Linked DNA regions of Homo sapiens: region 2 is linked to region 1. The links come from fine-mapping of genetic effects on gene expression. A gene starts in region 1. The other region holds a variant in brackets. All regions are shown on one strand. Distances are from middle to middle.

Region 1 (2,914 bases):
GCGGGCGGATCACTTGAGGTCAGGAGATCGAGACCATCCTGGCTAACACAGTGAAACCCTGTCTCTACTAAAAATACAAAAAAAATTAGCCGGGCGTGGTAGTGGGTGCCTGTAGTCCCAGCTACTTGGGAGGCTGAGGCAGGAGAATGGCGTGAACCCAGGAGGCGGAGCTTGCAGTGAGCACTCCATCTCAAATAATAATGATAATAATAATATCTTCACCTTTCAGTTTTTAAATTGCAAGTCCCATGTCCCGGGAATTCCCCGGTCCTGGGCAAAGTGGGATGGTTGGTCACCCAACCTATATGGATGCCCATTGATATTAAAAAATAAAAGTAATCACAATAGACATGAGGGAGAGAGTTGTGTACAGTGTGAGTGTACAGAATAAAAGGTCTGGGGGGTTTATACCAAAATGTGCACAGTGGCTACCTGGAGGAGGAGGGTTAGACAGGAATAACAGCAAGGAGACTTTTGCACGGTGCTGAGTGACTTTTTAACTTGCATATTATTTTGGAATGCATTTTTTCAACATTGAAAGAAAGTCATGTCTTCCTAGAAATATAGGATATAGGACCACTACAAACGCTTTACTCTTAGTCTCCTTTTTTTCTTTTTCTTTTCTTTTTTTTTTTTTTTGAGACAGAGTCTTGCTCTGTCAGTCAGGCTGGAATGCAGTGGCGCAATTTTAGCTCACTGCAACCCCCACCTCCTGGGTTCAAGCGATTCTCCTGCCTCAGCCTCCCAAGTAGCTGGGATTACAGGTGCCCATCACCACATCTGGCTAATTTTTATGTGTTTAGTACAGATGGGGTTTCGCCATGTTGGCCAGGCTGGTCTCGAACTCCTGACCTCAAGTGATCCACCTGCCTCTGCCTCCCAAGGTGCTGGGTGGCATGAGCCACCGTGCCCAGCCTTAGTCTGCTTTAAAAAAAAAAAAAAAAAAAAAAAGAACAACCATTTGAGGAAACAGAAACAGAATACTATTCCTTAAGACAGTAGCTTTGGAGGCAAAAAACAGAATTGTTTATAAAACGTTGTGGAACTTATATGGGAGCATGTCCAGGGATCCACACCACCATTTATAGAAGCAAAGAAAGGCCCTTCTCTTTCATCTGCGTTACATTTCGAGCTCTTCTGATTAGCTTCCTTCAAACATGACGGGAGTCGTTTTTCCCCGGGGACCCCAAGTGCATGCCTTCAGACAGGGTCTGCTCTCACTATACATTGGGTTCGAATTTACCTGGACGTTGGCAGAATGGTCCGGACCCCGGGGAGGGGCGAGCTGACTTACCACTTTATTCCTGCCGCTTTTCTCTTGCCATGTCCTCCCCACCGTGCATTCAGGGTTACATTTTCCAGGTTCCTTGTTTGCTGAGGGCCTGAATCTAAGCCTGCTAGCTGCTTACTCTGGGGACTGCAAATGTCACTTTTAGATTAATCAGCCCCTGCTGTTTAAAAATATCCCTGGAGCACTTAACCTTCAAAGCAGCAACAACCCGGGGCAAAGATGAGAAAGATCCCACGTCAAACCACTTGTGCAGCCCTGGCTACTCCTGGGAGAGTTCTGCTATCTGCCTTTTAATCCCATAACTCGCTTTATTTCATAATTCTTAGCTGTTGAAGCCATGAGGCATCTAAAGTCCATGTTGTCGTAAGCAGTAGGCAGAAAGTCATCTGGGCCCTCCTGTGACATGCTGAAAATTAACTGCCTACAGGTGTTGGTCATTTGAGAAACAAGCCCCCATTGAAAACCGTGAATGGGAAGGTGATCGCTATCAGGTCACCTGGCTTCTCTCCCCTGAAAAGATTTGGCGAAACCCTCTCAAATCACGCCACTTAATGGAATGTTTCCAATTTCTTGTGACTTGGGGATAAAAGAAAAAAACAGCTCCATTGCCACATTCTCATTCAGGGTTGACTGGCTCTTGCTAGGGTTGAGCACAGAAGAGGAAATTCAGCACACGCTGCAGTTACATAGTGTTCTGCAACGTGGGGAGGGCTGGCATGTGGGACAAAGGTCGCCTCCAAGGCCCAGCTGGAGAAGCCCAGCCAACTAGGCAGCAGGAAAGTGGAGACCACATAGGAGCACATTGTGCTCAGGCAACAGGGAAGGTGGAACCCACTTCCTGCCAACAATGATGGCCTTACTAAACAGCAAGTGGAGAAACTGGCGAGAGCGCTGAGCACGGGATCTGTGCAAAATGGTTTAAATGGAAATTGCTGCTGGGGCTGGTGCAGCCTGTTCACAGCTACTTTGTTTCTGGGCTTATTTTGCAATAAGGAACAGTCATTGAATATTGGACTTCTTGGGATTTTCTCCACTGGACTTGGAAGCATGTGCTCTGGAAACCTCAGCATTATCAGCTGTAACCCCACAGCACCAGGTACATGTTACAGGAACCGGGGTGAAGGAATGCAGGTCAAATGCCTGCACAATGCCCGGCCCGAGTCATATGTTCTCTAGCCACAGTAGCCCTTGTGATGGCTCTTAGTCTATTTATTAAGACAATAAAAGAGGTGACTCTCAAACAAACCTATGTTTCCAGGGAGAGCCATCTGTGATTCAAGGACATTTTTATAAAATTCCATTGAAAAAAATTCTTAGGCTTCTAACTTCATGAAAAAAAAATTCTTTCCCAGTGATTCCAAATAATCATGATCTAGGCAGGGTGTTGACAGTGGCAGGACTATTAGGCTTTGAAATCAAGCTGATGTGGGTTTGAATCCTCCCTCCATTAGCCATGACTTTGAGCAAATGGCTGAGCTTCAGTGTCCTCATCAACTACTTCACCATATGGGTGAGAAAATGAAATGATTTATATTGAGTTTCTGGCACAGGGGCTTGCTCATGACAAGCACTTAATATCTTTCTAATGAAATTCATTACTTGCAAAAAGACTAGACATACCCA
Region 2 (2,914 bases), 43 kb before region 1:
CTTGGCCACCATGTTGATTTCGAAACTGGTGACAGAGCCCCTCCATCAGGCAGGCCACAAGCCCATTACCGCAGGCTAGGCAAGCGAACACACAAAGCTGCCGGACTGGCCTTGTTTCAGGCCCAATCTCCAGGCAAGTGGCTATTTTAATTCTTTTTGATAAAGCTGGAAGCCAACCAACATTGGCTCTAGAGAGCTGACCTTCGGCCAGCATTTGCTTCCACTGAAGGAGGATCATCCTAAGTGCCATTGTCCAGTGAGAAGCCCTGTCCTTATACAGCACGGCAAGGGTGAGAGCTGAAATGTTTCAAGGTGACTTTGGAAATGACTTCAGGTACAATCAACAGCAGAGGTGTCAGCCAAACACCAAATGCAGTCAGCTGCCGGAGCACAAGACCAGGCAGAATAGTATCAGGAATGGAGGAAATAAACATTCTCGGCTGCCCACTATGGACTGGGCACAGGGGGCCTCTCAGTGAATCTCCACAGCCCTGTATGGAGGAGTCTGTCATCTCCAGGTTCACGATGAGGAAACCGAGGTTCAGAGAGGACCATTTACCTCCAGTTTCACAGCTGGCAAGTGGCAGAGCCCCGTTTCAAATCCAACTCTAGCTGACCTCAGAATCTAACTTCTAGGCAGAAAGACAATCTGAGATAAATGGAAGCCCCTCTATTAACTGGACTTTTAAAACATGCATTACACATATGGCCTCTTATATTCCTCTCAAATAAGAGACAAACATGTATAATGCTGAGGTTTTTTGTTTGGTTGGTTGGTTTTTTTTTTTTTTTTGAGACAGAGTCTAGCTCTGTCACCCAGGCTGGAGTGAAGTGGCACCATCTCGGCTCACTGCAACCTCTGCCTCCCAGATTCAAGCGATTCTCCTGTCTCAGCCTCCCGAGTAGCTGGGACTATAGGTGCCTGCCACCATGCCTGGCTAATTTTTGTATTTTTAGTAGAAATGGGGTTTCACTATGTTGGCCAGGCTGGTCTCGAACTCCTGACCTCAGGTGATCTGCCCACCTTGGCCTCCCAAAGTGCTGGGATTACAGGGGTGAGCCACCGCGCCCAGCCCTGAGTGCTTAACTGGGGGAAATTTTGCTCCCCGGGGAGCAATACCTGGAGACATCTTTGATTGTCACAACTTGGGGGATGCGCTACTGGCATCTAGTGGGTGGAGACCAGGGATGCTGCTCAACACCCTGCAATGCACAGGACAGCCCCACAAAGAACTGGACAGCCCCAAGTGTCAACAGAGCCGCAGTTTAGAAACTCTGGTAGACTGCGGCCATCCTCCTAGGCTTTGAAGCCAGAATCTACCGCTTATAACCTGTGTAATCCTGGGAAAGTTACTTCAATACTCCCTGCCTCAGTTTCCTCACATGATGGAATTAACAGTTTATCCCTGGACCTAGCCAAAGTAAACAGCTTGCAACACTTTAGCTACCATGTACGTCTGCAGGATAGCATTACAGGAGCCCAGGCTGGGCCATTAGGCTAGGGCCCCGGCATTAATCAGACCTTCAATT[T/C]CTTCCCTCTCTTTTCTTCTATAAAATAGAGATGGTAACGGCTACCCGCACTGCTAAGAGCTGATTCTGAGCCAGGCAATTCTGTAATTACAACTACTTCCAAACAAGAAAGCAAGAAAGAACACTGTGTAGCCCAGTAAAGGTTGATATCGTTCAAACAGCACAAAACCACGCTCTCCAGAAATGGACCCTTGGAAATTTCTCAAGCCACCTGCCCCATCAGTACCCCCTGGGATGACTACCTTGGCTAGGCCAGGGGTGAGTGGGCAAACTAGGACCCATGGGTCAAATCCACTCGGCCACCTGTTTTTGTATCTCCCACAGGCTAAGAGCGGTTTTAACTTTTTAGATTGTTTTTTGTTTTGTTTCGTTTGTTTCGAAAGGGAGTCTTGCTCTGTCGCCCAGGCTGGAGTGCAGCGGTGTGATCTCAGCTCACTGCTACCTCCACCTCTCAGGTTCAAGTGATTCTCCTGCCTCAGCCTCCCGAGTAGCTGGGACTACAGATGTGTGCTACCACGCTCTGCTAATTTTTGTATTTTTATTAGAGACAGGGTTTTACCATGTTGGCCAGGCTGGTCTTGAACTCCTGACCTCAGGGCGATCTGCCCACCTTGGCCTCCCAAAGTGCTGGGACCACAAGTGTGAGCCACCGCACCCAGCCTTATTTGTTTTTTATAGAGACAGGGTCTCCCTCTGTTGCCAGGACTACAGTGCAGTGGTGCAAAAATAGTTCACTGCAGCCTCAAACTCCTGGGCTCAAGTGATCCTCCCACCTCAGCCTCCTGAGTAGCTGGGACTGCAGGTGTGCACCACCATGCCCAACTAATTGGTTTATTTTTGTAGAGACGGGGTTTCATCATGTTGCCCAGACTGGTCTCAAACTCCTCAAGCAACCCTCCTGTCTTGGTCTTCTAAAGTGCTGGGACTATAGACATAAGCCACCATGCCCAGCCAACATTTTTAAGTCATCGAAAAAAAAAAAAAAATCAAAAGAATCCTGTTTTGTGACACATAAAAATTATATGAACTTTGAATTTCCCCATCTATAAATAATGTCTGATTGAAACACAGCCAGGCCTGTTCAATTACATAACTATGGCTTCTGGTGCAGGAAACAGCAGAGTTGAGTAGTTACAACAGAGACCACATGGCCACAAAGCCAAAAATATTTACTGTCTGGCCGTTTATAATAGCAGTCTGCTGACCCCAAGCTAGGCACGAGTTTTCAACCCTGACATGAAAAACTTTATAAGATTCTGATGTCGGGGTCCCATCAGCATGTCTAGGGGGTAGAGGTGGGGTCCCCGGCATCCAGATTTTTCAAAAATCTCCCCACCAGGAAATTCTAATGTGTAGCCAAGAGTGAAAACCCCTGATAGGTCTA

The links.
Region 2: its variant is fine-mapped to the expression of ACACB in whole blood (TOPMed, PIP 0.99).

What each region holds. Positions count from the first base shown.
Region 1 is chr12:109,115,085-109,117,998 of GRCh38, reverse strand. It overlaps ACACB (acetyl-CoA carboxylase beta), which reads right to left and starts at 1,412. Exons shown (of 53, transcript NM_001093.4): 1 at 1,295-1,412.
Region 2 is chr12:109,157,969-109,160,882 of GRCh38, reverse strand. The region is part of intron 2 of ACACB (acetyl-CoA carboxylase beta); the gene reads right to left. Among named protein-coding and RNA genes, the nearest start is that of ACACB, 43 kb to the right of the region's middle. The variant T/C (reference allele first, on the strand shown) is at 1,531.